Homo sapiens: one gene and its partners. The protein of the gene in region 3 interacts with the protein of the main gene of each other region in a pairwise test. Each region holds a gene or a part of one and is shown on either strand. Other genes may lie near its edges. The genes, in order: LHX5, GPATCH2L, SETDB1 and ACAP1.

Region 1 (9,058 bases), on a different chromosome or scaffold from region 3:
GTGTTTCCCTTACAGGTTGGAGGACTGGCTTGCTGCTTTCCTTCTGTCTCTCCCAGGCCCCCTTCTGGCCCCCAGGGATCAGCCCCAGACTTCACCCTCCCAGCAACTAAGTGTGTTTTGCCCGGGGAAGGAGCACCCAGCAGGAGAAAGTAGCCTGTTTTTGCTTGCCAGATAGCCCAAGGTGTGGGACCTCTAGGGGAGGGGTGCATTCCAGGAGAGGGGCTTGCAGTAAGGAAGGAGGGAAACCCACGCCCTGCTGCAGCTCCAGAGGGACCTCTGAGCTGACTGGCACTCACCAGCGCACACACTCACTCCAGAGAGACCTCTGAGCTGGCCGGCACTCACCAGCGCACACACTCACTTGGAGGCTGGATCTCAGCCACTGCCCTCTCCACCTGCTCCAACCACCAAGATCCAGGGCCTGTCCCCTGAGGGGTAGTAGGCCCAGTGGACTTCCACTAGCTAGGGCCCCTGATGCTACAGCCCCAGAAGTCTGACTCAGAGTTGGCCCACCCCTGCCGGGTCCCACAGGAAGCCCCCTTAAAGTTCCAGCCCGGATATTGGACTGGGGTTTAGTTTAGACTCAGAGCCCTGCTTTCCTGTGCTGGGGGGTGAATGCAGAGGAAGATTGGGCAGGGAGAAAACTTGGTGGGAGATGCCATTGTTTAATTCCCACTTCCTGCAGCTCTCCAAAGGAAGGAAGGAAGGAAGAAGGGAGGGAGGGAGGGAAGGAAGAAAGGGAGGGAGGGAGGGAGGGAGGGAAGGAAGGAAGGAAGAAAGGAAGGAAGGAAGGAAGAAGGGAGGGAGGGAGGGAAGGAAGAAAGGGAGGGAGGGAGGAAGGGAGGGAGGGAAGGAAGGAAGGATGTAAGGAAGGAAGGAAGGGAGGGAGGGAGGGAGGGAGGGAAGGAAGGAAGAAACGAAAAGGAAAAGAAAGGGAAGGGGGAGGGAGGGAGGGAAGGAGGAGAGAAGAGAGGGAGGAGGAATTCCCTGCCTTTTTGATTAAACGTCCCGGGTCGGGCCTGCCCAGTTAACGAGACCGTTAATTAAGCCGAGCACGATTCAACTGACAGGAAGGCCCTGCGCCCCGCAGAGATGTTCTGGAAACCAAGCAATCCACGGCCTAGCGCCAGTGGGGCACACCAGCCACGACGCCCCCGCCTCCCAGGGTTCCACCCAGGCCAGGACACTCTCCCCGCCTGGGCTCCGGGCCGCTCTCAGACGGCCACCCCCAAGGGTTCCCCAGAAAATTCACCACCACCCCCCACCCACCCCACTCCCACCCCCGCCATCCCTCTCGCATCCCTGCCCGGATGTCTAGGCCTGAGCACCCATTGCACCCCGCCGGCGTCCTCTCTGGCCCGCCTGGGAGCGCGCGGTCCCGAGGTTCTCGGGCAAACCCGAACTGCGGAGGGCAGAGGCTGGGCTCGCTGGGTCTCGCCGGAGCGCCACACCAGCCGCTCTCCTCCGGCCTCCAGACAGCGGGGCTCAGCCTTCACGCCCGCTCCTACTCGGGGGCCCGATTCCTTCCGGCGGCGGGCGGTGCTCTGCGGCGCTGCGGGACGCTGAGTGTGTGTGCGAGGCGCGGCCTATATTTACACCCCAAACAAAATAATTACACTTTTGTCGGAGGGAGAAAGCCAGTGATTAGGCGTAGGCTCTTTGCGGCAAAACAGTTTCTCAGTGGTACACCAGTATAATTTTTCACGGCTGGCTGAAATCAAAGAGGGGAGGTAATGAATCCGGCGAGCAATTTAAATTTACAATTTGTAACGCCGCCGCCGCCGCGCAGACCCGGCCGAGAGCGCAGCTCGGAGGCGCTCGCTGCGTTTGTTTAATGTTAAAGCCGCGCTGGCTCTTGGGGGTGGGGTGGGGGAAGTATGCGTGTTGGGGTGGGAGCGGTAATGATCGAAGTCGGGAGAGGACGGGCTGGGTCGCACAAGATGCCACCAAGAGAAGTGGGCAAAGCGCGCGCCTCTCCGGTCCCCCCAGCCACCTGGGCCCCCAGAGCGCGCGTTTCCCAATAAAGCTGCCACTCCCGGCCGTTCGAAGGAGAGGATGCTTTAAGAGGAGCCAGGAGAGACACTGGCTGCCAGAGAAGACCCCCTTTCCTGCTTGGCTGCAGAATCTCCCAGGCCGGAGGCTTTCCGGTGAGGAATAGGGAGGTGCAACTGAAACGACCTCTTCAACCCGCGGGTGGGTCAGCTCCAAACCTCTGGAAGCGCCCTCATTCCGGCCGCTGCCCGGTGTCCCGGGCTGGAGAACTCAAGAGAGGTATGCCCCACGCCCCAGCTCAGCGCTCCCCAAAACTCCCACCCCAGGCTAGTGTGCGCCTCCTCGCCAGTAATTAATTACCGAACTCAAGGGGGAATATGCAAACCGCATATTACTAACTCTACAGGGCTTAAGTGATTGGAAACAGATTATTATCTTGTTTGTCTTTTGTCTGTTTTACTTATCCCGCCGCCGTCTGTCGAGTTGTAATGTTGATACTCTTTACTCTAGGAGGAAGATTTTTATATAGTAAATTCCATCAACATCTTGTATAAGTGACATTGCGTCTCCATGCATTACCCTGTTAAGACACAAGCGGTTTATTAGTTACATATAGGAGGGGATTTCGCTGCCTGGTCGCCATCTGTTAGCGCTGTTAGGTCGGGATGAGTCTAATAGCTGGTCTGCTGGCATTTTCCGATGCTGTGCACCGGGGAAGGTGGTGGGCTAGAGAAGGCCGGGCGGGTTCTGGGCAGCTTGGCTGAGCCCAGGTCCAGGGAGTTCTCGAACTGGGGCTGAGCTGTACTGAGGATGAGGCCCCCAACGCAACTCTAGGGGACTGCAACAAGGGCAGGATTGGTGAGTTCCCCTACAAGAGATGGAAGATCAGACCAGGGCTTCTGGAAACAGAGTCCTCATCTCCTGCAACCAAACATCCAGCCCCAGGTGACTGACGCTCATCCCTACTCAGGGCTGCTCTCATCTTCTTCCCTCTTCCTACGACCTCCCTGGCCTGGCCACACGGTTGTTAGAGCCTGGCTATGCATTGAAGCTCTCTGGGAGATGAGGACTAGTGGATCTGAGATTCAGATAGAGCTGGGTACACAGGCCCCCAGCCACCACCAATGGGTGGGCAAAGCCTGGGCTGGAAACACACACCAGACAGGGCACTTTGCATATTTTGTGGGGTTTGGGGGAGAATGGGCTCAGTGTGCCTAGTCTGGAGCAGAGAAGAAAGTGGTTGGATGGAGGTTCTGAATGATCATGAAGCACGTGGTGGGGGTGCAAGTCTTCCCCCCACACCCCAAAATCTGCACGATGCAAAATAAGGAGCATTCATCTCAGCTTTGAGTCGGATGCTGGATTTGGAAGCTCCAGCAGAGAGGCCAGGGGAGGAGAACAAAAAAAAAGAGAGAGAGAGAAATGGAGAAAGAAAACAAGGGAGAACCAAGAGAAAATGAAACAGAAAGAGAACAGATTCTGAGCATAAGAGAAAAACGGAGACAGAAAGGAAAAGAGATATGGTGAGAACTCGGGAGAGACAGAAAAAGCCTAGTGAGACAAAGACGGAGAAGGCAGTACAGTTCACCTCTGCCGGGAGCCTGAGCACCTCTCTCCTCTTCGGGTTCTTATTTCTTTCCAGCTCTGCCCCTGCCAGAGCTCAAGGATCCTTTAAGCCCAGGCGGGCAGGGCCAAGTGCTGCCAGAAACTGCAGTTCCATTTGAAGTCTCTCATGGCCGAGCCTAGGAGGCCAAGTGAGATTCATCCTGCCTGTTCCTGGTTGAGCTGGGCTCTAACCAGCGTTACTACTATGCTCTGTAGATGCCTGTCCCCTGACAAGCTAGAGGGTCAGGTAACAGCACCAATAAGCAGAAGCTGCCCGGGTTAGGGATTCCTTTTCCAGCGGGCTGGCTGGTGAGTCAATGCTCCACTCTGTAACCAGCACTCACCAATTCCCTGTCCCTAGCAAGATCACCTCCCCTAGATACTGTGGGGGACAGTGCTAGGCCTGAGAGGAAGGGGGACAAGTGGGCATCCCTGAGCCCCAACACAGGCATCCACAAATCCTGCTCCCTCAACCTCCGAATCCACAAAGGTAAGCGCAGCTAGGAGTACACACACAAACACAAATACAAACATAACCCCCTCACACACACATACACACACACACACAAAAGCCTACAGGAGTTGCATAAACAAAAAACTACTGTTTGCACAAATACACACATTTGCAGGCACACACACACAGCGACTGGCACACAAACATAGCTCTTCAGAATTCTGCACTCACAAACACAACCAAGCCAGCTCAGTCTCATACACACAGGGTCTCAAGCATGCACGCCCTCACCTACACACAAACACACACATTCAGATTTTTCAAAGTACACCTTCACATCAATGCTTGCAAACACAGACACAAACACTCTTACGTGAATGCACACGTACACATGAAAACACCCTCACATTTATGCATCCTCAAATAAGCAAACACACATAGGCACAGACCAACAAAAATAAAAGTGCACACAGTGATAAACACAAACATTAGCAGGACCATACACAATTACAAACACACGAATCTGCACACACGAAAACGCACACGCAGAAATTTACTCACAGGATTGATGGTACTAACACAATAAACAGATGCAAAAATGGAATTCTCAAACAGCGAGTATACACTAACAAGCTCAGGAAACACACCCAAACAAACATTCACAGCCAAGTGCTGGCACAAACCCCTCCAGCTCCAGCCCTTGGTCCCAGGCCCTACTCCCTCAGCCCCCTTTCCAGAAGCGAAAGGCAAATCCTGGTTGCCCATTCCCGGCTTCCCCAACTAGGATCCCTGGTGGCCACGCTGGCCCCAGGGGAAAGGAGGCCTGGTCCCTTCTCCTACTCAGACCCACACACCCCCTCCTCACGCACACCTGCCAACATCCCCCCTCCCCCTTAACACACACACACTCTCTCTCCTCACACTCTGGGCGCCCTGCCGAGCACGGAACATACGTGCGCCGCTTCTCCTGCGCCCAATGAGGGGACGAACTTGCACACCCAGCCCGCACGGCGTGAATACAAACAGCGCTCTCATAGTCGCTGGTGTCCCCCGCCTCAGCCGTACGACCCACTCACCACAGTGCCCCATAGGCTGACCTGGAATCTGGAAGGTGCAGCGAGGAAAGGAGAGACGTGGTGAGTGCCACCTCCGAGCTGTCTGCGGGAAGACCCGTCCACCCTGAATCTCCCCCTGTCCACATCTCCCTCAGAGCCCCGTGAGCAGCGCACTCAGGCCTGAAACTCTGGAGTTCGGGACCAGGCCAAATGGCACCCCTCCTGCTCCCCCGCCTCCCCACCCTGGGCCTGGGCCTGGGCTCGGCGGCCGGGCGGGGAAAACTACCCAGGCCGCGCGGTCTCCACTAGCTCTCTCCATGAGAAAGGCCCGGCTGGGCCCCAGCCCCGTGTATGACAAAAAGAAGCCGGGGCCGGCTCCAGGAGCCGGGAGAACCGCGCTGACGCAGCTTCAGGGCGCAGAGGGGGCGCGGGGGTGGGGGAATCCAATCTGGGCTGGCTGGGCTGGAGAAGGGGAGCGAAGTGTGGGGCGTGGGGCAACTTCTGCAAGTTCCAGGGATGGCGAAGGGGGCAGGGGTACCTCCCGGACTAGGCCTTGGAACCCGTGACCCCCAAATATTTGTGAGGAGAAAGAGAGAGGAAGAGAGACGCAATTTTCGTTTCGCGCTGCCCCCGCCCCGTCAGCCCCAAACTGGAAGGTAAATACTTACTTAGCCTCCGAACCAGGTACAAGCTAATACTCAACAATACTGATGCCTTGTTTTTTTTGCTCTGTCCGGACAGCAACGCTGTAGCCAATTTAGATATGCTATAAATTTAAGAGGTTGCCATGGCCACGGTGCGCCCATTGGCCGCTGGGCCCCCTACGTGCAGCGCCACGTCACCAAATCTGAATAAGGATGCGCGAATTACGCGGCGACCAGACAAAGATGAGGATCCGGACCGCTTGAAAGTGGGGGAAAGTGCCGGCGCCTCCGCCACCGGGGAAAGCCGCTCCGCAGCGCCGAGGCCAGCAGCCACCCGAGATACCTGGGGAAGCCCGGAACAGGCGCCGGGGCGTGCGGCCCGTGGCATGAGGTTGTGAACGCCACCCGCCCCCCACCACCCCACTCCGGGCAGCCCAGCGCCAGGCCAGAGATTGCCCAAGGACTGGACCGGCTGAGTCTTGGTCCGGACCAGACTCGCCCTGCAGCTGCTGAGACAAGAGGCGAAGGGCAGCGGAGGGCCCGGCAGGCCCGAGGGCCAGGGGCCCAAAGGGAGGGCAAGGCGGCCGAAGCCGCCGGGGCGCGGGGCTATGATGGTGCACTGCGCCGGTTGCGAGCGGCCCATCCTCGACCGCTTTCTGCTGAACGTGCTGGACCGCGCGTGGCACATCAAATGTGTTCAGTGCTGCGAGTGCAAAACCAACCTCTCGGAGAAGTGCTTCTCGCGCGAGGGCAAGCTCTACTGCAAAAATGACTTTTTCAGGTAAGAGGCCGCGCCGCTCTGCTGCCTGCGCGCCCACCCTGCGCGCGCTCCACTGGGGCGCTGGGGAAGGGGATACCCCCATCCCCATCCCAGCCTCCCCGGATCACAAGCTTAGATGGGGAGCGGGCAGCACTTTGCTCTCCTCCTGTCCTTGGTCCAGGAAAGGTCCCGAGCCCAGGCGGAGGAAGAAGGACGCTGCTTCGCTGCCTCACGTTGGCTCGAGGCCGGCTCAGAGCGCTGGCGGGGCAGAGGGAGGAAGCCCTGACAAACTTGCTATCCACTCCTCTCCGCCCCTTCCAAGCAGCTGCAACCCCAAGACAGAAGCTTCAAGCCCCGTCCCGAGAGAGAGGAAGGATTTTTGCATGAGTTAGAGACGCCTGAAGGCTTCTCGCTCCAGGCAGAATGTGTGAGCCCATCGGCCGCAATCCCAAACAGAAACTTCTCAGCTCCAGAGGGGGCCCAGCGAGGAAGGTCTCCCCTGGTGATGGGAGGAGAGAACCTCCCCCACCCACCTCCCAACCCCTTAAACATTTCCTCCCATGTTGAAAAGTAGAAACGAAATCGAGGCTGAGAATCAGGACCTCTGGGGTCTAGACTGGGCTGTGGCACCTCCCCAGCCCCCCTACCCCTGTGGGCCCTGTGGCTGGCCAGGGCAGATCACCTCTCTGGGCCTCAGTTTCCCCAGCCTGGAAGCCACTGGAGTTTGGGGCAGCTGAGCCCTACCTGTTTCCTCTGGGCACCCAGAGCCGGCTTTGTGAACAGGAATTCCCCGCGCTGAGGAATGGGGGCGTGAATCACGCCACAGAGAAAGGCAGCCTGCCGGCCCCAGCGACTCCGCACTGAGAATTTGAATGGGAGAAAATGTCAGCCGCTCCTTTACACGTGTTAACTCCCTGGACCCGGAGGCCCGATGCCCCTAATGTAGCAGTGCTTGCAAAGTGCCTAATGATTTTTGATAAGGTGCATATGGCCAATTACGCTGCCGGATAAGGCCAAAAGTGACTTATGGCTTCTAATGCCCTCACTACATCAATGTCACCCAAATTCGCCCTGTTTAGAGACATGGGTGTGAGTAGATGTGGGGTCCCTAGAGTCCTGGGTCCTCCCCCACCCCACCCCCAACCTGAGCCTCACCCATCTCCTATTTCGGGGGAGGCTGGCTTTCTCCCTGAGCTCAAAGAAGAAAGAAAAGGAATGAGATCAGGAACGCGGGAAAGCGGGGATTTGAGAGATTCCTGTCCTGGCCTTGCAGGATCTATGATTGTCCTCTATTCACATTCCCCTGCTGCCTGCCAGGCCAGAGGTTTAGGGGGGCTGAAACTCATCCCTGCTCTCTAGGGTCCATCACTATGAGGCCCTGCTGTCCACAGCTCCTGATTAGCTCCAGCGGGTCCCAGAGCGGTGGATTGGAAAGCCTCTCCATTGGTACTGGAAATCAGTGGAAGGTTCCCTCCTTTCTGCTTCCTCCTTCCAGCCTAGGAGAAGGGCTCCCCACCTCATGGCTAGGCTCAGCCAGCCAGGCAGATTGGCCCTAGCTAGGCAGCAGCAGACTAGAAAGGATCCAGGAGGCAGAGCCACCAAGTGGCCCAAACCCTCCCCGCCTGGCTTCAAATCATTCATGGACTCTGAGTTTGCCTGGAGCAGCCCAGGCAGGCCTGGCAGGGGTTGGGTTTGGGGGAGGACATCTTGGGGTGCTCTGGGCTCTCTTCTTGGCTGAAGGCTGCACCCACTGCTCACCCCTTCCCAGCTCAGGAGAGTCTGAAAAGCCCCAGTGGAGGCATGGCAGTCCCAGTCCCAAAAGCAGCTCAGGACATTTGTCCCACTTCTCCCACTCTGGCCAGAGCGCTCAGGATTGGGGTTCCGTTTGACAGATATGGAAATGGGGACTTCACCGAAGCCAGGTCGGGTGGGAAGAGGTCAGGGGCTGGGGAGGGCTGGATGCAGTCCCACCCCATAGTGACAGGCACATTGTGTCCACAGGCGCTTTGGCACGAAATGCGCCGGCTGCGCGCAAGGCATCTCGCCCAGCGACCTGGTGCGCAAGGCCCGGAGCAAAGTCTTTCACCTCAACTGTTTCACCTGCATGGTGTGTAACAAGCAGCTGTCCACCGGCGAGGAGCTCTACGTCATCGACGAGAACAAGTTCGTGTGCAAAGACGACTACCTGAGCTCATCCAGCCTCAAGGAGGGCAGCCTCAACTCAGGTAGGAAGCCTGGGCCCCTCACTAGCCTTAGGCCTTAGCACCCTCCCACCGTGCCCAGCCTGGCACTCCCTACTTGGCCCCCGGTGTGCTGTCTGTGCTGAGCTTGGAGCTCATCAGCCCCAGGCAGTTCTAGGGCAAGGCAAGGGGGTTAGAGGCTAGAGAAGAGAAGTGGCTTTGGAGCAGGTTTTACAGGGGATCTGAGACCTGCCAGCTCTGCCTCACCCTCCTCCAATTCAGGAGCCTTTTCCAAGTTGCCCTCCTCCCCTAATTTGGAAGCGCACAATTCCCCCTTATGTGTCACTTGAGCTCCAGGTAATTTCTTG
Region 2 (8,079 bases), on a different chromosome or scaffold from region 3:
ACAGAAACAAACATATAAAGTACAATATCAATCTTTCCCATAACTGTGCCAGCTAAGGCAACCTCAAAAGGCACATGTTAAAAGTCAATCTTAAAATAAAACAGCAACTATACTTCTTTTTATTGGAATCCATCTTAAAAGTATTACATGTTACCCTACATTTATTATTCTCCAGTGATCCAAAAGTCTTTATAAATACATCATAGACACTGTTCACCATATATGGTATTTTAATAAGTACTATACCTCCTGTAACTACTGAAGTATATAGGAGTAAAAATCCTTTTTTAGAAAATTCAACAGTAGCCAATTTTTAACAGGCCAACACACCAAGCTTCCTAGAGAGCTACGTGATTTGATTATAGTTCCAACAGCCTTCATCCTGGGACATTACCAAATCCTCACTGGTAAAATGTAAATATCTGCTGACTAAATATAAATACATCAAGAGAATTTTGTGACTTGCAAAAATTGTTACTCTGTACTTTGTCCCTCAAACATCATCTCATGAAATAAAAATAGAAATTTGTATAAAATTGATTCCTAAATTCAGGGTTCTCAAGATTATAGTGTAAAAGCTTACCCATAACACCACAAAGAGTTCAGAAACGAACCATTTCCAAAAAATTGGAAAACGGCAATTCACTCTTCATTTAACTTGAGTACATTCACAATGCTTACCTACCATGGCACCTGGGAAAGCATACCAACACACATCTGAGTAACTGTTGTGTTGAGAGAACACAAGTCACGGGCGTGAATGCCAAGAACATCAAGGCTGTTCTTCAAACACATTTGTGTCTATATTCATCTATGTGTGTGGACCGTGCTAAACATCAGGCTACACATTTCAGCAGAACTGGCTGTAGAAAAATTACTCTGAGGTCAGAGTCCGGGCGGTAGTGGAGTTAAATGAGAAGTTTTCATATACTATATTCTTCATGTTCTGCATTTCTTATAGCTATGCCTCCTGGTCACAGACAGACATGGTAGGGGGGCCAAGGGAAAAGATGGGTGAAAAATGAGCTATTTGTTACAGCAGAAAAATTATTAACTTAAAGTGCCGTAATGTTTAAATTTACAGTTTATTACTGTGTAAATTACAAGCAGTACTTTGTGTAATTAGCAGCTCACTGGCAGGGAGCTGTGAATGAAACTCATTATTTATGATTACAATTTAGAAAAGCAGAAGAGAGATGGGGGAGGGGGAAGAAGGGGGGCAGAGCGGTGACCTCTTCTAGAAATGATAAATATCCCTTTAAGGTGATGAAGATGAATTAAACAAGTAAATATTATCCTATTCATTTGAAATCATTAAAGGCACATCCAACAGGCCCTCACTCCCTTCCAGGCAAGCTAAAGGGAAACCTTCAAGATAAAGTGACTTGTTTCCATGGAAGTGGATGGCTCTTATTTTATAAGAGCTGAAAGAAAGTAACACAGGTGGCAGGGGGAACATTATCTGTCAAGCCTAAACAATAAAAGTAAAACCTCTCCTTCTTCCACCCCATGTACTGCTATTCTGCTAGCTATCCCTGTTAACAATAAGCTCCCAAAACAGAAAAAGCAGCGTTTTGTCTGTAAAATGAGTAATTTGAAAGGTATCAGTTTTCCAATAATCAAATGTCTTCTAATTCAAGATTTGAACTTGAGGCCGGGCACGGTGGCTCATGCCTGTAATCCCAGAACTTTGGGAGGCCGAGGCGGGTGGATCACCTGAGGTCAGGGGTTTGAGACCAGCCTAGCCAACATGGTAAAACCCCATCTGTACTAAAAATACAAAAAAATTAGCCAGGCATGGTGGGGCGCCTGTAATCCCAGCTACTTGGGAGGCTGAGGCAGGAGAATTGCTTGAACCTGGAAGGCAGGAAGTTACAGTGAGCCGAGATCGCACCATTGCATTCCAGCCTAGGTCACAGAGCGAGATTCCATCTCAAAAAAAAAAAAAAGATTTGAACTTGAATTTAAAGATAAAAAGAAATAAGAATCTTGGGCTCGTCTGGAAATAAACAGTCTCATTTCTTTTGCATGCTTAAAACTTCAGAAAACTGTTCCCTGGTCAGACTATAAAACAGTATCCCCTTAAGGGAAGCCAGACTGTGGCACATATTGTGCCACCTAGCAGGCATTCTAAATGCTTACCAAGTGAACAAACAAATTAATGCTCTCAATGCCTCTCCCTTCCTTATTCTTTGCCCACCACCATCTTCTCTGACTGAGGATGAGCCCTGTCTTAATTTATTCCTCAATCTCAAAGTAGAGTAAAAAATAAAATTCAATAAAAATGTAAAAAGATAAAAGTAGACCTGGGTTCAAATCTCTATTCTACCATTCCTATCTGGGTAACATCAGACATTCCTTAACTTCTTCGAACCTAAGTTTTCCTCATCTGCTGAAGGTGCTTGCCCTTGTAGGTTGCTGGAAGGATTAAATGAGCTGAGTCCCTAGTACCATCCCTGGCAAAGGCAGAACTGAATAAACAGCAGATAGTTCTCCCTCATGGCCAAGGAGGGGCTCTTGAAACTCAGTAACAGTTTTGTTTTTTTTTTTTAATGAATTCTAGGATGAAAGACCAAAATTAGGAAAGAACAAAGATGCATTCATGAATTCAAGAGGAGTCATAAAGAAGCCAAGAGTATTTTAACTTACACAATAATAACATAACATTAATCAAAAGTTACAGAAGACACAGCTCAGGCTTGTAGGTTTACAGGCAATAGACACTGTAATGACAGTGTTTTTTTTTTTTGTCAGTACTTCTATATGAATTACGTTTCATCTTTTATTTGTATATCCATTCACATTCTACATAATGTTCACTCTTGTAAACTCCCAACACATTCCAGTTGGCTCCATTAACTTCAGGGAGTTCTGTAGCACCTCTGATTGTTAATAGGATACACAACTCCCATAGGGAATATTATCTCCCCACTGAGCCAAGCTAACTGTGAGAGGTATCACCTTCCCAACCAGCCTTCTTCGCCCCTTTCTGAGGCATCGAGCTGCAGCTCCAGGTAGACGATTCAAGCGAGTATGGTACCCTAAAAAAAGAAGGAAGGCCTCAGATACCGAATGCAGAAAATCCATATGCAATCCTATGTTTCTAGTACACTGAAGGCTTTACCCCCAGGATCTTAATAGATTGACCTTTAAACTAGCATCACAGAGCTATTTGCCAAGGATTTATTATTCCCAGGTCTTTGTCACTAGCAGTATGATCACAGGCATGCCATTTACCTTTGACCTAGGCATCCTCCATCTATAAAAGAGGGATAATCACTCAGTCCTACCTTACTGGGCTGTTTTGAAGACCCAATGAAATAGCAAGCAGAAGGGACTTTATAAACTGAAAACACCACACAAACATAAGGTACTATTAATAATTTTTAATTTAAAATTAAATGTTAGTTTGTACGTCAAAAACATTCTAATTCATGACATAATGGGGAAAATAGCACGTGTCGGATAACCCAATTTTTCTCACTGCTGCATGTGTTCTACACAAGGAAAGAACAACTGGAGGAAACCACACCAAAATGTTATTAATGAGATTGTCTCTGGATATGAGATTATAGGCCATTTTAAGTTTCTTCTCACTATTCTTGCTTGTTTGTATATATTTTAAGTGGTCCATTAGAAACTTTTAGAAATGTTCATCAAAATGTTCAATAAAGCAATGTGTGCCTCAGCTAGTCTTTACCAAGCACCAACTGCTGGTTCGCCATGACAAAAATTCACCATGACAAACAAAAATTCACCATGACAAAATCCTACATAATACAAGTTTACATCTCGTAGTGTGATTCTGATCACCCACAGATGTTCAACAAACTCTTGGCAACTGATTAACTGGTTGATTATGGGTTACTGGGAACCCTAGAATCATAAATTTATAGTGCTAAAAGAAATGGTTTTGTCCAATGTCACATATCGTAAGTGATGACCCTGTCATCCCAGGAAAATGCAGTGACTATCACAGAGCTTGGTAGACAGTATCAGAGTATTAGCACCACATTTCCATCTCTCTGTCCTAGGTTCTTTCCACCCACTTTGCTACATCATAATTGAAGAAAAAGCAAAGGGAAAAGGAAACATATTTGTGTTAAAGTCCCAATAGGGTCATTAAAATAAAACTACTTAAATTATTTTAAAAGCATCCGTTTTAAAAACACCATTATATGTGAATACTCTTACTGAAAATAAGAATATGTATGTGAATGTTCTTATTGAAATCTGTTCTCTTCCAAAATCCGATACTCAATAACCTCTTAGTTTCACATCAGGATAAGCAGCTGTCACTAAATCTGGCACAAACGGCAATGGCAAGCTGAAGGAATCTCCTGATAATATATATGTCCCAGGAGTTTCCATGGATTAGTTTAGGAAGGAATGGAGAGAACCTTAAGCTTTGAGACTTACTTTGACTCCTCTAGAAAATCCTTGAGCTAGCTCCAAAATTCAGATAGTTAATGTGTGATTGAAGGCATGAGTATGCTTGCTAGGGGGTGATTGCTCTGCCCAAGGAGAACCATAAAAGCATTAAGTTCTTGGTCTCCTCAGAACTCACCTCTTTGAGCTGGCCGAGAAGGTAAAAGGAATGTGGAATCTGAAAATTTATCCAATCCAGAATCCATTCTTTCTACTTCAGAACAATGATCAGGAGCCCACTTGGGCAGAAGATTAGGGACAGTGAATCCTGGGACACATTCTCCTTCATAGAACCAATCACTCTGTTCGTCATCACCTAAAGTAAAGACATCATATCATAAGCTAGAATTTTAAACAAGGTCTGAGAAAAACAAATGGGAGGGATGATTTCTTAGTGCCATAGTTTTGATCATCCTTTTTTTTTTTTTTCCTTTTTGAGACAGAGTCTTGCTCTGTCACCCAGGCTGGAATGCAGTGGCGTAATCACATGTTCAGGCAATCCTCCCATCTCAGCCTCCCAAGTGGCTGGAACCACAGGCTCATGCCACTATGCCTGGCTATTTTTTTATTTTTTTGGGGATGGATTCTTGTTCTGTTGCCTAGGCTGGAGTGCAGTGGCGTGATCTTGGTTCACTGTAACCTCCGCCTCCCCTCCCGGGTTCAAGCAATTCTCTCTGACTCAGCCTCCTGAGTAGCTGGCATTACAAGCGCCCGCCACCATGCCTGGCTAATTTTTGTATTTTTTTAGTAGAGACGGGGTTTTGCCATGTTGGCCACGCTGGTCTTGGACTCCTGACCTCAACTGATCCACCCGCCTCGGCCTCCCAAAGTGCTGGGATTACAGGCGTGAGCCACCGCGCCCAGTCTTTTTTTTTTTTTTTAATTCTCTGTAGAAACTGGGTCTCCTTATGTTGCCCAGGCTGCTCTTGAACTCCTGGGCTCAAGCAATCCTCCCACCCACCTCAGCCTCTCAAAGTGCTGGAATTACAGGCTGATTATACTTTTAAATAAATCAAGGCATTGTTCTGGTCCTTCTTGATTCATTTTACAATGAAAACTGGAACACCAACCTGGTTTCACATAAATGTCATACTGTGTTAGACTGGACCGCTTTAATAGCTAAAAATAAATAAATAAAGCTACCACTCACTAAACCCTTACAACCTACCAGGATCCATGCTAAAAATCTGTAAATATGTCATCTCTTCCAAGCCCTACACTAACTCCAACTTACAAACAAGGCAACTAAAGCCTAGAGAAGTCAAGGTCAATTTAGTAAACAATGAAGCCAGGATCTGAACCCAAAGCCTGACTAACTCAAAAGCCTGAGATCTTTATTACAAAAACAAACTGCCTCCCCTATACCATTCTCAGTGGTATAAACTTGGAGGTTCAAAACCCATAAATGTTTCTCAATTCAAAGCTAGCTATACCTGAGGGATTTCTTGCTATATTTGCCTTTATCATAAAAGGTGAATAAAGAATATATGTCCATACTTCATTTATCGTTGGTATCTCATTAATGGGACAGAAATCATCTTGACACTAGAAATCCAAGCTACTGCGGAAAAAAAAAATAACCACAGCAACAAATAACATAATCCCCTAAGGCTTTTCAATAAGTTATACCATTTTCCCAAGGCCATTTGTTAATTAACAGCAAAGTCACAACCAGATCCATATATCCAGACTGTTGGTAGTACAAACTTCTTTCTACTGGCTATAGTGATAGTATCTCAGTTTCCACTAGAGTTTATTCCTGCCAACAAAGAATAGATAATTGTATGTCTGCCACCACATACCCCTTGCAAAATAGCAAAATTGAAGGAAATTATTACAAGAATATCTAAAGAGTTCATAATGTAGTCAGTCTCTAATGTACACTGGATTCCAGACAAGTTGCTCAGAAATGTCAATCCCATGAAGTATGAGATTCATGGGTCATTAACACGCAGGATAATAACTCTTAAATCACTGTGGAGATCTCCAAAATGGGCAATGAAAACTGCATTCTGGTGAAAAGCAGGAGATATTACAACTAAGAAAGTTACTCAAAGTGTTCCCTTATAAAAACACACCACAAACAGCTGTCTCTCTTACAGTAGTTCTCAACTTTGAGCATGCATCTGAAGCAGCAGGAGGGCTTGTTAAAACATGGACTGCTGAGCCCTTACTCCAGAGTTTCTGATTCTAGTCTGGGCAAGACCAAAAATGTGTATTTCTAACAAGTTCCCTCATGATGCCAAGCTGGCCTGGGGACCACGTTTTGAGAACCGCTACTCTAAAAGCATCTCACGAAACCAGATACATAGATGAACTGAATACAGGCATTAGTGTATAATAACTAGTTTCTCTGTACTTCAATATATTAATTCTTTTCTTATTCATAAGCATTCCTTAGGCCATTTATTGAAATAGTATATTTAATTAGGCCATGTTTTCTGACGACAAATGGCAAACTATAATGGAATTTTTTTGGTTCTCAAGCAGTCATTCAAGATTTTTAATAATACAAAAAGGGACTCCCTGAACTAGAAGGAACGTTGTGAGACCACATAGACCAGCAGTCTTCAATCAGGGTTCACTAAGATGCCTGATAGAGGAGCTCCTTAAAAGAGCGCTGCCAGGGAATAAGCAAGAAGCTAGGTGGATCGGGCTCCTGACCTCTGGCTCCTCTAGAATTTTGCTTTAAACCAAATAGGCTTAGTTGTTTTACAATCTGAGAATCTATGTTCGATTTTGTTTGGGGGAAAAAAAGGAGAGTTTTCCCCTTAATTGGATTATAAATAATTATTTATTAAACATTTACTATATGCCAGGAACATGCTAGGTACTGTGGTTGCACATAATAAGTCCTGCCTTGAAAAGCCTCAAGGGAAAAGACTCGTACCTACAAACAATAACATAATCTAGTGAGTAGTAAAAGAAACAGTAAGTATAATACAAGGAGCCACAGAGAACAAAGGAGAAAGGGCTATTGGCCAGAACCCCCTCAGCAAACACATGGCACATTTAAATGGGGTCATTGCAGAGATGTAATGAAGTGACTATTCACAAAGGTGGAGACAGTACTAACAAGGAACCCCACAAGGGGATAGTGAAGCACATCAGGTGGAGCCAGCACAGCAGGAGGCCCTTACCATTCCTAGACTTGGAGTGGCAAGGGAAAGAATGGTTATCAGAACCCAAAGAACTGTGGTTATAAAAGAAGGCTGCCAAACAAGAGTGGTGGCCCTCAGCAGAGGAACACAACCACTGCCAACCAGCAATCCAACAGAAAAGGTGTCAGGGAAAGCAATAATCTAATGTGGTAGACTGCATTAGCATTTCCAAGTACTCTCTATAGCAGAATCATCCATCCATGACGTTTGCTCTTTGCCATTGGATTCCACAGTACCTTCCCTTTTAGGAAGAGCACACTTACTCATCCTACTGACTCTGGGCTTGGTCATATGACTTGCTTTACGTAGTAGAAAATTAACAGATATGATTCAAGCAAAGGCTTTAAATATGTACTTGTGGTCTAGCCTGGTCACCTGGCATTTACATCCTCTGCCATAGGAAGTCCATGCCGCCTATCATCATTGCTCCTCCACCCTAGGTCCCAAAATACAATACACTGAGTAGATGTAAACCTAACTTGAAGCCTGT
Region 3 (8,079 bases):
AACAGGACCTCTGTTTTATAATTAACCCTCCAGGTAGCTAAGCCATTTCTCTCATCTTTCAAACAGCTGTGCTCCTGAAGCTAAAGATGATTCAAGAAAGATCTTCCCTTGCCCTACCAAACCTGGACAATGAAACTCCCTGGTTACTCTTCACTGACTGATAACATCTCTATTTCTCTTTTTTTTTTTGAGACAAGTTTCGCTCTTTTTGCCTAGGCTGGAGTACAATGGCACGATCTTGGCTCACCACAACCTCTGCCTCCTGGGTTCAAGCGATTCTCCTGCCTCAGCGTCCTGAGTAGCTGGGATTACAGGCATGCGCCACCACGCCTGGCTAATTTTGTATTTTTTAGTAGAGACAGGGTTTCTCCATGTTGGCCAGGCTGGTCTCGAACTCCCGACCTCAGGTGATCCACCCGCCTCGGCCTCCCAAAGTGCTGGGATTACAGGCATGAGCCACCGCGCCCGGCCTAACATCTCTATTTCAACAGTATACCTTTTCCTAAAATGTATTTGCCTGTGAATTATGGAAGTAGAATCCAGTCTTCTACCAATGTTTTTTTGGTCTGCTGCGTGTTCTAAAAATGTCCTTACTAACTCCAAGGAAAGAGGCTGTGGTGTTTCCTTTCTATTTTAGCAATGATGGCACCATGTTCAACAAGAAGTTTTAACAAATGGCTTTCAGATGATACCATATTTCCAAGCACCCAGCTTCCAATTCAATTATTCTTACTTTCTATTTCTTAGGAACTTCTATGGGTAAAGCTTCCTTTTCAAGTCCAAACTCCTCACTATCATAAGCTTAAACTAAGCCCTTCGCTTACAGCCAAGGAACCTTCCCCTACACAGTGACCACTCATTGCTATCCTGCCTACAGAGAGCCTCAGATTTTCTCACCTATATGTCTGGTTGATCCCAGGTTTCCCACCAGAGACATTTTCACTGAGTGCAGGAGATGTAGGGGAGGAATGACCAGAGCCCACAGATCCTGGTCGAAAGGACGTGCTCTTTTTGGCTACCTGCTTCCGTGACTGGGCAAGCTGGCTTTCCAAGCTTCTAGGAGATTAGAGAAGAGGGCATATAGTAAGGGATGTGGAAAATATAATATGAAAGAAACTGAAGAAAAAGAAAGAATAACACTCACTCACTGTCACCTGCTTGGGGGGATAGAGGTGGAGCAGGTGGGAAAGGTGGGGCAGGTGGAGCTGTAGGCTGTGGGGGTTCCACTGGCTTGAACTGGGTTCCAGTACCGGTCAGATCCTGTGTGTACTGGACAACAGGGCCTTTGCTCCTCACAGCACCTATAGGAAAAAGGAAATTGAGCACTGAGAAGATGATAGCTATGACGCTTGTATTCAGTCACACATCTGATCCTTAACTTATACAATATAAAAAGGAAGCAATGGCTGGGCGCAGTGGCTCTTGCCTGTAATCCCAGCAGTTTGGGAGGCCGAAGTGGGCAGGTTGCTTGAGGTCATGAGTTTGAGACCAGCCTGGCCAACATGGTGAAACCCCGTCTCTACTAAAAATACAAAAATTAGATGGGCATGGTGGTGCACATCTGTAATTCCAGCTGCTCGGAAGGCGCAGGACAATCACTTGAAACCAGGAGGTGGAGGTTGCAGTGAGCCGAGATCACATCACTGTACTCCAGCCTGGGCAACAGAACAAGACTTCGTCTCAAAAAAAAAAAGCAGCAATGGACACATTTTGAGTAAGTGCTTAGACTCTCAGTTCCCATTATTGACTGGCATGGACGCTGGCATACATTGTTTTTTGACTTAGATAATACTTTTTCTTTTATTAAAGTGAAAGCAAGTTTATTCACAAAGTAAAGGAATAAAAGAATAACGGCCAGGCGCGGTGGCTCATGCCTTTAATCCCAGCACTTTGGGAGGCTGAGGCGGGCAGATCACCTGAGGTCAGGAGTTCAAGACCAGCCTGGCCAACATGGAGAAATCCCGTCTCTACTAACAATACAAAAATTAGCCTGGCATGGTAGCAGTCGCCTGTAACCCCAGTTACTCGGAAGGCTGAGGCAGGAGAATTGCTGGAACCCGGGAGGCGGAGGTTGCAGTGAGCTGAGATGGTGCCACTGCACTCCAGCCTGGGCAAAAGAACCAGACTCCATCTCAAAAAAAAAAAAAAAAAATTGCTACTCTGTCGGCAGAGTAGCCTCTTTTTTTTCTTTTTATAGACAGTGTTCCACTTTGTTACTCAGGCTGAAGTGCAGCGGTGTGACCTTAGCTCATTGTAACCTTGAAATCCTGGGCTTCAAGCAATCCTCCTGCCTCAGCCTCCAGAGTAGCTAAGGCTACAGGTGCACACCACCACACTCAGCATTTTTTTTTTTTAAGAGATAAGAGTCTTTCTATGTTGCCCAGACTGATCTCCAACTCCTGGCCTCAAGTGATACTCCCACCTCAGCCTCCCAAAGTGCTGAGACTACAGACACGAGCCACCATGCTGGGCCTTAGATAAGACTTTATATCTTCCTATCTCAGATGATTTACCTAATTATGTTATACTTTGGGGAAATATTTTCAGAAATATATTCTTTAACCAACTAATTTTGGCAGGAAAAATCAACCAGAAAGTATGACAGTAATATTAAAAAAGAAAACCAAATCTGTTTTTTGTTTGTTTCTGAGACAGGGTCTCGTTCTGTCACCCAGGCTGGAGTGCAGTGGCACGATCTAGCTCACTGCAACCTCGACCTCCTGGCTTCAATTGATCCTCCCACCTCAACTTCTTGAGTAGCCTGGACTACAGCTTAATGCCACTGTACCCAGCTAATTTTTGTGTTTTTTTGTAGAAACAGGGTTTCACCATGTTGCCCAGGCTGGTCTTGAATTCCTCAGCTCAAGCAAACCACCTACCTGTCTCAGCTTCCTAAAGTGTTGGGATTATAGATGTCAGCCACTGTGCCTGGCCAGGTCTGGGTTTTAAAGAAAACTGACTATACGCTGGATGTGGTAGCTCATACTTGTAATCCTAGCACTTTGGGCAGCCGAGGCAGGTAGACAGCTTGAGCCCAGGAGTTCAAGACCAGCCTGGGTAACATATCAAGCCCCGGGTCTATTTAAAAAAAAAAGAAAAAGAAAAAACTAACCATAGATAACACACAAAACTGACAATTCTCATGTGGATAACAGAGGGTAACTACTATCACCCTAACCTAAAGCCAACTGTTTCAGATTTTTATGTGGTTGTTTAGAACAAATTAGAGCCACAGCATGTGGAAGCAGCAGCACAAATTGATCACCATGATTGGAAACAACTCAGGGCACATATCCTGTTTCCAATGAGTATACAGTGTAACCATGCTAATCAAAGGATAGCCATTGTATATAATCTCCTTTGCTGGTTGGCCTGTTTCTTCCTTCCTCCAGGAATCTTTCAGGACATACCCATATTTGGACGTGTCCTGAGCTGTCCTTGCTTCTTCTCCAGTGCAGAGGCTGAGGATGTTTTCATGCTGAACATGGGCTCCAGCCGTGTAGAGCCTCGATAGATCCACTCACATCTTTTGTCATCCTGGGGAATTGAGAGAAAAGAATGAAGGGAAATAGCTTAAAGGCTAGAATCTATCCTGTCCTGTGTAGAGGATATATACCATGTGTCACCTCTGGGAATCCTCCCTGATGAGCCTTAAATTCCTTAGTCTAAGCTAAGCACAGTGGCTCACGCCTGTAGCTTGTAATCCCAGCACTTTGGGAGGCTGAGGCAGGTGGATCACCCGAGGTTGGGAGTTCAAGACCAGCCTGACCAACATGGAGAAACCCCGTCTCTACTAAAAATACAAAATTAGCCGGGTGTGGTGGCGCATGCCTGTAATCCCAGTTACTCGGGAGGCTGAGGCAGGAGAATTGCTTGAACCAGGGAGGCGGAGGTTGTGGTGAGCCGAGACTGCACCATCGTACTCCAGCCTGGGCAACAGGAGCGAAACTCCATCCCCCCCAAAAAAAAATTCCTTATCTACTTAATAAAGTATGTGCCAGGATCCATGATGGGTATCAGGAACACAACAATGAAAAATATATACTCCTTGTTTAAGGAATTACAGGAGCAACAGATATCTATACTGAGTATAAGAGGTATGACAGCTGGGCACAATAGCTCACACCTATAATCCTGGTATGTCGAAAGGATGAGGCAGACAGACTGCTTGAGCTCAGGAGTTCGAGACCAGCCTGGGCAACATGGCGAAACCCGTCTCTACTAAAAATACAAAAATCAGCCAGGTGTGGTGGCATGCACTTGTAGTCACAGCTACTTGGGAGGCTGATGTGGGAGGACCACTTGAACCCTGGAGGTTGAGGCTGCAGTGAGCTGTGATTGCACCACTGCACTCCAGCCTGGGTGGCAGAGTGAGACTGTCTCAAAAAACAAAACAAAACAAAACAAAACAAAACAAAACAGGCCAGGCGTGGTGGCTCACGCCTGTAATCCCAGCACTTTGGGAGGACAAGGCAGGTGGATCACTTGAGGTCAGGAGTTCGGGACCAGCCTGCCAACATGGTGAAACCCCGTCTCTACTAAAAATACAAAAAATTAGCCAGTCCCAGCTACCCGAGAGGCTGAGGCAGGAGAATCACTTGAACCCAGGAGGCGGAAGATGCAGTGAGCCGAGATCGTGCCATTGCACTCTAGCCTGGGCAACAAGAGTGAAACTCCGTCTGAAAACAAAACAAAACACCAAACAAAAAGCATGATAAGGATCATAAGGCCTTAGAAGTAACGGGCTGAGGTAACACCAAGAAGAAATATAACTTCTAATTTCTTCTGGCTACTCTGGGCACACTGCCTATCAGGTAGCCTTGTTCTGCAAGCAGCAGTATTAAAAAATGTTTTTAAAACTTTTAAAAATAAGAAATATGATTCTAAGAAGGGAGAGAGAAGGGAGAAAAGGATGAGTACAAAATACCTAAGAGTTAAACTGAGCCTTGAAAGATAATCAGGACTCCTTGATCCCTCTTCTTCGTCCCACTATCCTACTAAAACCTTAACCCTGGAAAAATGGAATTGGCTGCCCTTTCTGTACCTACACACAATGTGAATACTCCTAAAGAAAAAAAATAAATAAATCAAAACCATGCAGATTCGTATTATAATTCAGATAATTTATTTTCAACAATGACCTGCAGAGGAACAACAAAAAGGGCAAAGTAAAATTTGACCAAAAACAGTGAGAACACATACGAGGATAAGAAAGAGGAAGGCTATGGAATAGCTATAAAACCATCCTCATTACTGCTTCTTAAGTTCCCCCCCCACCAACCTCTGCCTCCAAAATTGTAGAGAAGAACAGTACCAGGAAGAGGATCCTGACTAGGCTGCCATCCACCTCCTCAACTCGGGACTTCCACCACGTGCCTTCCCACTCAGTCTTGATAAGCTGGCCACTCTTGAGCAGTACCATGGGGCGGTTGGGGTAGGCAGTGACATACTCCTCTATGAAGTCACGGCAGGAGATGTCTTCTATGTCCTCCCAAGTCTTTTTCACTGTTTCAAGGAAGAAGTAGAACTGAGAGGGCAGGTAGGGCATGTCTTGATAGGGAAAAGACTTGGCCAGGAGACATTTGATACTTTTTAAGTTGAAAAGGAGAGAAAAAGTAAAATCAGAACCTCAAGGGAAGCAAAGCCAAGACCACCTAAGTAATAAACCTAATGTACAAACTGTACATACTTACAAATCAAGTAAATACTAAATAAGAAATGTACAATATAGGTGATTCACTTATTTTACACAAATGGATGTTTCTCCTCTGGAAAATTCAAGTGGAAATTCTTGCTCACTTGTTGATCAGTCTAGTGGTAAATTTAAAAAGATCAGGTGGCATCATGAAATGAAAAAAATTAGTCCTTCCTTCTCATTCTCTATCAGGTTTTTAAGAGACTCAGAATGTGTTTACTGTCATGTTATGTGTAAACAAAAGTGTTAGTTGATTCTTCTGCAGTTAAAAATGATTGTTTCCATAGGAGTCTGCTCCCAAGCCAGGGTAACAAATATAGTGGACACTATGAGGTTCCATCTAACACAGCTTCTGTGGAAAGCATTATGCAGACTACACATTTATACAAATGTTAGGTGCAGTATGACACTAGGAAAGAAGTAACACCTTTTCCAACGTAACTCACTTAGAAATGAAATTGAAGCACATCTATAACGTGAGCAGTCTACTCAAGGCCATTCATGATCTTCTAGTGTCTCACTCTTTGTCTACAAAGACCCAGTCCTGGAGATGAACAATAAAACTGTATCTCTTTTGGGAGCAAACTGACCTTTGGGAGCAAAAGACATCAACCAAACTTATGCTCTTTGAGACTGAAATACCAAAAACACTAGGGCTTTTCAACTGGATGTCCTAAGAAGAAATACAAGGTAGAGGAGAAAACTGAGCTAAGGAATAAGGGAGAAACACTCACGTGGCCGGCAAATGGGATACAGTTCCGACTGTGTGACATAGGAAGCATAGCCATCATCAAAGAAAATGAGAAACCTATAAAAGAAGAGTGACAGCAGAAAGATCTGGGGGTTATGATATTTAACATGATCCACAGAAATTATTTTATCATAGCTTCTACTTCTCTGGATCACAACACGATGCACTCCAGGGAAGACAATCCAGTCCACTACTTTCTTCCTGTTTTTCTTTCTTCTCAACTTGAGAGTTAGGAGTTCTCCCTTAATTTAACCAATACCTCCCTACTTTTAAAAAAACACATATACATATAAATATTTTTGAGACGGAGTCTCCTTCTGTCGCCCAGGCTGGGGTGCAGTGGTGCAATCTCGGCTCATGGCAACCACTGCCTCCCAGGTTCAAGGAATTCTCCTGCCTCAGCCTCCCAAGTAGCTGGGATTACAGGCATGCGCCACCACACCCAGCTAATTTTTGTATTTTTAGTAGAGACAGGGTTTCACCAGTTGGCCAAGCTGGTCTCGAACTCCTGACCTCAGGTGATTCACTTGCCTTGGCCTCCCAAAGTGCTAAGATTACAGGGATGAGACACTGGGCCCGGCCAAAAAACATATATTCTTTTTCCTCTATCAGATTCCTATGCTGCCAATAACCATTTAGTCTCCATTTCTTTCTTCTGTGTGAATTGTATTCCCCTGACCATTAATCAATCCTCATTATTCTCTTCCTAGTTTTCTCTTTGAGGAAAGAAAAGGAAAAAAAACAGGAGGAGAAAGAGGAAGAAAGAATCACCCACATGACTCCTGTGGTAAAGAAAGAGTAAGGGTTTCAGTCCACTGGGGACTAAGAAGACAAAAGCTAATTGTGGTATCTGGTCTATGGCACGAACAGGGCAGGTGCTGTGCTCCCAGCCTCTACCCCTTTACAGTCCTCTGTCCAGGTACCTGAGCTTGTTTTTGACGTTTGGTGTCTCAGCTACAATGCCAGCATAGAGCCAGACCTGATTCCCATCTTTGTATTTGGCGACCACCCGACTGCCCACATACAGCTTGTCAGCAGGAGGGTGGTAATCATAGGCAATATGGTTCCCCGACAGTAGACTCTTTCCTTTGTTGTCAAATTTCACCTTGTATTTCTTCCCTGGCCCTGAGTAAAAGGGAAAGATAAATCTTTTTAAACACTGCCAGTTTCTGTATAAATCCAGGCTGCTATGTGAGAGACAAATGGGAAGGTTATGGGGAAAAGAAACAATCAGCAGTGGAGGGTGCAGGTTGCCTTTCAGGAGTGGTTCCTCCAAGTTTGCACATACCAACTGTCTGGATGGCAATAAGGGTGCCTTTGTGCCAAGTCTTAGTTCTCTTCTTGCCCAGAATTCGCATGCTGACTATCAGGTCACCATCTTTGCTTAGTTCTCCAGACATCTGACTCAAGGTTCCTATAGAAGAAGCAAAGTTATTCTCAAGAGTTATGACATAGATTCGGTAGAGAACGGGAAGGTAAAGAGGGTAGTATGGTAATTAGGGAAAGTGGGGTAATTTTTTTTTTTTTTTTGAGATGGAGTCTCACTCTGTCACCAGGCTGGAGTGCAGTGGTGCGATCTTGGCTCACTGGAACCTCCGCCTCCCTGGGTTCCAGCGATTCTCCTGCCTCAGCC
Region 4 (6,528 bases), on a different chromosome or scaffold from region 3:
TCTCAGTAAGATCCTCATGGGCAAAAAGCACAGCCTCTCTTCCGTCCCTCATCCTAAAGCTGCCTATGTCTGTAATGATTTCCTTCTCTTACAGACGCTGGTTCACCATTCAGAGCAACCAACTGGTTTACCAGAAGAAGTACAAGGTGAGTGGACCTGGGTCCTGGATGCCTGGGCCCCAGGGAGACTCAGCTCTTGCCTGCAGCTGGACATCTGGCCCCTTATCACCTTATCCTGCCAGGACCCTGTGACTGTGGTGGTGGATGACCTTCGTCTCTGCACAGTGAAACTCTGCCCTGACTCAGAAAGGCGGTTCTGCTTTGAGGTGGTGTCCACCAGCAAGTGAGTGCAATCCCCAGGGGTGATACTCTAATATATCTAAACAACTGCCAATCTGAAAGGCAGGGCCCACCACAATGGAGGCCCCCCATGCAGCTCCAGACTTTAATTTAATTCTTTGGCGGCTGGACTGGGGGGCCATTGTGGAAGAGGGTACAGGGTGATGGGGGATATTTAGGAGAATATTACCAACTGGTACAGAAGTCTTTCAATGCAACTGGAACTGGTTGAATACTGGCTGAATGTCAGTCTGCCCATGCTGCCACTTTGCTTCCCAGGCCTCAGACCCCTCTGCCATCTCCCTCACCCTCCTACCTAGGTCCTGCCTCCTCCAGGCTGACTCAGAGCGCCTCCTGCAGCTGTGGGTCAGTGCTGTGCAGAGCAGCATTGCTTCTGCCTTCAGTCAGGCTCGCCTTGATGACAGCCCCCGGGGTCCAGGCCAGGTACCTTAACCTGGGGGTGCGGAGCCAGGCTGCCTGTGGAGATGGGGCACCCTTTACCCTAGGCCCCTTGGCCACCCTTTCTTCCCCTCTCTCCCCCAGGGCTCAGGACACCTGGCCATAGGCTCTGCTGCCACCCTGGGCTCTGGTGGAATGGCCAGGGGAAGGGAGCCTGGGGGAGTCGGGCACGTGGTGGCCCAGGTCCAGAGTGTGGATGGCAATGCCCAGTGCTGCGACTGCCGGGAGCCAGCCCCGGAGTGGGCCAGCATCAACCTTGGTGTCACCCTCTGCATTCAGTGTTCCGGCATCCACAGGTTACTCCACAAGGCCCATGCGGGAGCCCCACTCCTTCGGGCCACAGTGCGGCTCCAATACAGAGCGCATCACACCGGCCCCTCTTCCTTCCCTGTCCTGGCTTCCTCTCTTAGCTTCTGGCTTTGTCACTGGGTACCAGGCCTGGGCCCAAGCCTCTGGGGTGCCAGTTGGACCCAGGCGGGCCTAGCCCCTCTGTGTCCTAGTCTGGCCAGAATTGGGGGATACCCAGAATTTGTTGGCTTGGTTGGAAGAAGTGTGGGGTCAAGGCTGCTGAGGGTGGGGGAGCCAGTGAAGACTAGGCAGAGAAACGGTCATGAGGCCTTAGCAAGTATCTAAGGCCCTCGCCCCCCACCTCAGTGTGGTGGAAGGGAGGTGACATGGGAGAGGTTGTCCAGGCCAAAGTGTCACAAGTGTCACTAGAGAAGGGAGGTGGCTGGAGTGATGAGGGCCTTGAAATGAAACCTAAGGAAGAAGGAATGGTGACGAGGCAGAGTCCTGCCAGGGCCAGGTCAAGGCTACATGGCGGTTACATGGCCGCAGCTGCCCTGCCTCCTGGGCCAGCACCTCTGCACGGGCCCCCATGCCAGCCTTGCCTCCCAGTGTCTTCAGGAGCAGCAGCAGCTCCCCAGGCCACTGCCCCCCTGCACAGGGCCTGACCCTCCCCCTCTGGCCCTCCAGGAGCCTTGGTGTTCACTTCTCCAAAGTCCGGTCTCTGACCCTTGACTCATGGGAGCCAGAACTAGTGAAGGTAACTTAGCGTATTGTGAAGATTGGGGGCAAGAACTTGGGGTGGGGCAAGGACATGGCGGTGCAGGGGCGTGATCCCTGAGGAGTCACTCACCCCCACCTTCCCTGTCTCTGCCTCTGCCTGGGCCTCCTGAAGCTCATGTGTGAGCTGGGAAATGTCATCATCAACCAGATCTATGAGGCCCGCGTGGAGGCCATGGCAGTGAAGAAACCAGGGCCCAGCTGCTCCCGGTGAGCTTGGGGTTTAGCCTCCCAGGGGAATGGGGGACCCCTGGAGCAGAAGAGGGAAGACTGCGTGCTTCTCCCCTCCCACAGGCAGGAGAAGGAGGCCTGGATTCACGCTAAATACGTGGAGAAGAAGTTCCTGACCAAGCTGCCTGAGATTCGAGGGCGAAGAGGTGGCCGGGGGCGCCCAAGGGGGCAGCCTCCTGTGCCCCCAAAGCCTTCCATCAGGCCCCGGCCAGGGAGCTTGAGATCCAAGCCAGGTATAGGGTTGGTTGGGCATTCATTGAGCATCTGCTGTGTGCTCGGCATCGTGCCAGGTAGCGCCGGGAGGCACAGAGTGTGAAGCCCAGGCCTTCCGCTGGACAATGTCGGAGGGACCGGACTGCCGTTTCAGGGGTTACGGTGGAGTGTGACATTAAGAATGAGAAGGAATGTGGGGCTGGGCGTGGGCAGGGAGGGTAAGGGGTGCCAACAGCACAAGAAAAGGAGAGAGAGAGGGGGTGGGTTTGGCTGGAGCGTCAGGGGTTGAGAGCTGAGGCCAAGTGTGGTTGGACCAGATGAGGTGATGATGCCGTCTCTCCCCCACACCCTAGGGACTCGTACACATGCATACGCATACTTACACATACCCACACTTGCATCACTCTATTCCCTCCACAGTCCCAAGCTCCCCATCATTTAGAAGAGACCTGTCCCATTATAGCATTGGGACACTGCTGAGGGTTTTCTTCCCAGACTCGGAGCTGCTTCCCCCTAACAGAACCAAATCCCCCGAACAGAGCCCCCCTCTGAGGACCTGGGAAGCCTGCACCCTGGGGCCCTACTGTTTCGAGCGTCTGGGCATCCTCCATCTCTTCCCACCATGGCTGATGCCCTTGCCCATGGAGCTGATGTCAACTGGGTCAATGGGGGCCAAGATAATGCCACACCGCTGATCCAGGCCACAGCTGCTGTAAGAGCCCTGCTGACCTCTCCACCCCACCCTAGGGCTCTGACACCTACTCCTGACTCTGGGCCCTGCCCTTACCTCCTTTCCCCACCACCTGTTCCCTAGGGCTTCCACCCATAGGGAGAGATCAACAATAGAGACTGGTTGCTAAGAGTGTGTGATTTGGAGGCAGAGAACCTGAGTTTGAACCCAGGCTCTCACCTCTTACAGGAGACTTTTTTTTTTTTTTTTGAGACAGTCTCGCTCTGTCCCCCAGGCTGGAGTGCAATGGTGCGATCTCGGCTCACTGCAAGCTCCGCCTCCCGGGTTCACACCATTCTCCTGCCTCAGCTGCCTGAGTAGCTGGGACTACAGGCGCCAGCCAGCATGCCCGGCTAATTTTTTGTATTGTTAGTAGAGATAGGGTTTCACCGTGTTAGCCAGGATGGTCTGGATCTCCTGACCTTGTGATCCACCCGCCTCGGCCTCCCAAAGTGCTGGGATTACTGGCGTGAGCCACTGTGCCCGGCCTACAGGAGACTTTTAACAAGTTATTAACCTCTCAGCCTCATCTGTAAAATAGTAACATACCTCAAAAGCTTGTACTATGGATTTATATATGAATACATGCAAAGAGCTAGAGCCAAGCCTAGCTTGGTTACAGTTAGCTGTAACCCCTTCCACACTCCTGATTACCACACTCCACCCTCCCATTCTCTGAACTGGCGCCACCCTAAGACATCTTGAAATCCACCACTAGGGATGCCACCCTCAACCCCCCTTCTCGACTTCTCCATGCAGAATTCTCTTCTGGCCTGTGAGTTTCTCCTCCAGAACGGGGCGAACGTGAACCAAGCGGACAGTGCGGGCCGGGGCCCGCTGCACCACGCAACCATTCTTGGCCACACGGGGTAGGGATGATGGCATGGGGAGGAAGGCTGGGAGAAGTTGGGCGGCCGGCTGACCCTGGCTCTTCTCTCCAGGCTCGCCTGCCTGTTCCTGAAACGGGGAGCTGATCTGGGGGCTCGAGACTCTGAAGGCAGGGACCCTCTGACCATCGCCATGGAAACAGCCAACGCTGACATCGTCACCCTGTAAGAATGCCTGAAGGGGCGGGGCTGGCGCTGGGACTCCCCCCACCCCCGCCCACCCACGTTCGGGCGGGCGGGCGGGGCTGACGCCGAAACAGAAGCCTGTGCTGTGGGGCCTCGGAAAGGGGCTGGGCCAGCGCCGGGGCCAGGCTCGAGAAAGGCTGCGCGAAGTGTGCACTGGGACGTGGAGTAGAAGGCAGGCGGGAGGGCGGGCAGGGTGCAAGGATGCTTGGCCCACCCTGAGAGGCGTAATTCGCCCATCAACATTGCTGTCAGGCATCTTTTTAGCACTAGACGTGACCCCGGGGGTGGGGGCAGATGAACGGAACGCAACCCAGCTCAAAGGATGGGAAGTTGTGGGGGAGGTGAGGATAGTCTTTTTTTTTTTTTTTGAGACGGAGTCTCACTCTGTCGCCCAGGCTAGAGTGCAGGGGCGCGATCTCGGCTCACTGCAACCCCCGCCTCCCGGGTTCAAGCGATTCTCCTGTCTCAGCCTCCCCTGAGTAGCTGGGACTACAGGCGTGCGCCACCACCCCCGGCTAATTTTTTGTATTTTTAGTAGAGACGGGGTTTCACCATGTTGGCCAGGACGGTCTCGATCTCCTGACCTCGTGATCCGCCTGCCTCGGCCTCCCAAAGTGTTGGGATTACAGGCGTGAGCCACCGCGCCCGGCCAAAGATAGTGTCGTTCATTTCTTAATTCCCTCCTCTTCAGGCTACGACTGGCAAAGATGAGGGAGGCTGAAGCGGCCCAGGGGCAGGCAGGTAAAGAATACACCCACCCCACCCCCCAGGCCCAACACCTGAACTCTGGGCTTCTGGTCCACGGTGACCTCTCTCCCTAGTGCCCAGCTGCATTCATTCCGTTATTTAACAAATGCGTATTGGGCGCATGCGACGTGCCAGGCCCTGGCAAGGCATAGGTGCTGGCGCAGTGCCCGCGGCGCGCACGTTCCCACCCAGGCTCGGAGCGCGAGGTCCCCAGGTGGGCCCCAACCGCCGGATCCTGCCCTTCTGCACTGGGGCCCAGCCGCCTCCCGGCCTTTCCTCCCTCCCCCAGGAGATGAGACGTATCTTGACATCTTCCGCGACTTCTCCCTCATGGCGTCAGACGACCCGGAGAAGCTGAGCCGTCGCAGTCATGACCTCCACACGCTGTGACCCGAGGCCCACGGGGCCCGCGCCTGCCTCCCTTCCCCGCCACCGGGCCCTCTGCCATTAAAGCCTCCGTGCTTCGCTCTTCCCTTCTGGTTCACTTCTTGGGCGCCACCTTCGGGCCCGTAGGGTGTTGGGCGCTGCGGCTCCCGAGGTGCGGGGAGCAGCTGGGGGTTTGCGAGCTCCAGTCCAGCAAGGTGCGACTCCGGGGAGCGAGGCGGCAGCTTCGGCCGCGGCCTGAGCGCAGGGCGCTGCGGGGCGGGGGCTCTCGGGCTGGGGCGACGTGGCCAGCCCAGTCCTGCCGAGGGGTGGGGCTGGCCCTGGGGCTCGCTGGCCCCGCGCCGCCGCGGAGAGAGCGCGCCCGGGCCACCCCGGCTGGAAGGCATCCCCGGAATGCGGCGGCTCAGCACCCGCCCCCTCGGGAATTCCCCGGGGGAGCCGCTGGGAGGGACTCGGCTCCCGGGCTGGGCCGGCCGGGCCTCGGGCTCTGAGCGGTGGGATTAGAGGCTCCAGCCCCGCCGACTTGCAGACGTGAGATCGGGCACACCTGAGCGGCGGCGGGGCGGTCGTGGCCACATCCGGGGCGACGTGCCTGAGTCACCCCGTCCCGCCAGCGTCTGCCAGTCCAGCCAGTCCGCCCAGTCTCTCGCGTCCGAGACTCGCCTCCAGCCTCCCACCTCCGCCCGGGCCGCGCGAGCCTCGCGGGGGCGGGGGCGGGGCGCCAAGGGGCGGGGCTGTCTCTTAAAGGGCCCCGGGCCGCTGCCCTTAGGCCACTTCCTGGGGGCGGAGAGGACCTCAGCGGCTGCGGCGACACCCAGGGAAGGCGGCGCGGCCGGGTCCCGAAACTCCTGGCTGTTTCCATCAGAGCCCTCGGACACTCCCAGCCCGGGCTGAGCACGCATCGTCGCTCCCCGGCGGATACAAGGGGGCTCCGCCATCCGCTCCCGTCAGTTCGGCCTCCATCTCCTGGGACCCGCGCCGGCAGCCAGGCCAGGCCTCTGAGTGGCCCCAGAGCCCTGGCTGGACTCGTCCACGGCGGCAGCGATCTGCCCGGGGTCTCGGAGGCCATCCCTTCAGAGTCGGCCCTGTGCTCGCCACCGTCACCTGCTGGTTGGATTCCGGAAACCCACTGTCTGAAGACCACAGAGGGGTGTCGCTGACCACCCCAAATCGGATACGTCCAGACCTCAAGCTCCCTTCCCCTCTCTGGCTGCCCTCTGCTCTTTTCATCTCTTCTCTCAACCTTTTGGGGATTTCTGTGTCCTGACACCACCTCCCCATCCACCAC

What was found.
Region 1: the proteins of SETDB1 (region 3) and LHX5 interact in binary tests that used the Homo sapiens proteins (3 or more experiments, as listed by UniProt).
Region 2: the proteins of SETDB1 (region 3) and GPATCH2L interact in binary tests that used the Homo sapiens proteins (3 or more experiments, as listed by UniProt).
Region 4: the proteins of SETDB1 (region 3) and ACAP1 interact in binary tests that used the Homo sapiens proteins (3 or more experiments, as listed by UniProt).

What each region holds. Positions count from the first base shown.
Region 1 is NC_000012.12:113,468,799-113,477,856, reverse strand, and holds the start of LHX5 (LIM/homeobox protein Lhx5), read left to right. Parts: upstream 1-5,985; 5' UTR 5,986-6,358; coding exon 6,359-6,531; intron 6,532-8,511; coding exon 8,512-8,735; intron 8,736-9,058. UniProt on the Homo sapiens protein: Plays an essential role in the regulation of neuronal differentiation and migration during development of the central nervous system.
Region 2 is NC_000014.9:76,168,508-76,176,586, reverse strand, and holds part of GPATCH2L (G patch domain-containing protein 2-like), read right to left. Parts: exon of another isoform or gene 5,389-8,079; intron 4,745-5,388; coding exon 4,568-4,744; coding exon of another isoform or gene 4,557-4,567; exon of another isoform or gene 3,042-4,556; coding exon 2,962-3,041; exon of another isoform or gene 1,067-2,961; intron 1-1,066.
Region 3 is NC_000001.11:150,942,344-150,950,422, reverse strand, and holds part of SETDB1 (histone-lysine N-methyltransferase SETDB1), read right to left. Parts: intron 7,861-8,079; coding exon 7,735-7,860; intron 7,572-7,734; coding exon 7,370-7,571; intron 6,504-7,369; coding exon 6,430-6,503; intron 5,506-6,429; coding exon 5,315-5,505; coding exon of another isoform or gene 5,261-5,314; exon of another isoform or gene 5,103-5,260; intron 3,538-5,102; coding exon 3,411-3,537; intron 1,302-3,410; coding exon 1,145-1,301; intron 1,057-1,144; coding exon 898-1,056; intron 1-897. UniProt on the Homo sapiens protein: Histone methyltransferase that specifically trimethylates 'Lys-9' of histone H3. H3 'Lys-9' trimethylation represents a specific tag for epigenetic transcriptional repression by recruiting HP1 (CBX1, CBX3 and/or CBX5) proteins to methylated histones.
Region 4 is NC_000017.11:7,346,150-7,352,677, forward strand, and holds the end of ACAP1 (arf-GAP with coiled-coil, ANK repeat and PH domain-containing protein 1), read left to right. Parts: intron 1-94; coding exon 95-146; intron 147-241; coding exon 242-342; intron 343-658; coding exon 659-782; intron 783-881; coding exon 882-1,093; intron 1,094-1,772; coding exon 1,773-1,842; intron 1,843-1,977; coding exon 1,978-2,072; intron 2,073-2,156; coding exon 2,157-2,326; intron 2,327-2,845; coding exon 2,846-3,018; intron 3,019-3,795; coding exon 3,796-3,905; intron 3,906-3,977; coding exon 3,978-4,088; intron 4,089-4,800; coding exon 4,801-4,850; intron 4,851-5,145; coding exon 5,146-5,246; 3' UTR 5,247-5,328; downstream 5,329-6,528. UniProt on the Homo sapiens protein: GTPase-activating protein (GAP) for ADP ribosylation factor 6 (ARF6) required for clathrin-dependent export of proteins from recycling endosomes to trans-Golgi network and cell surface.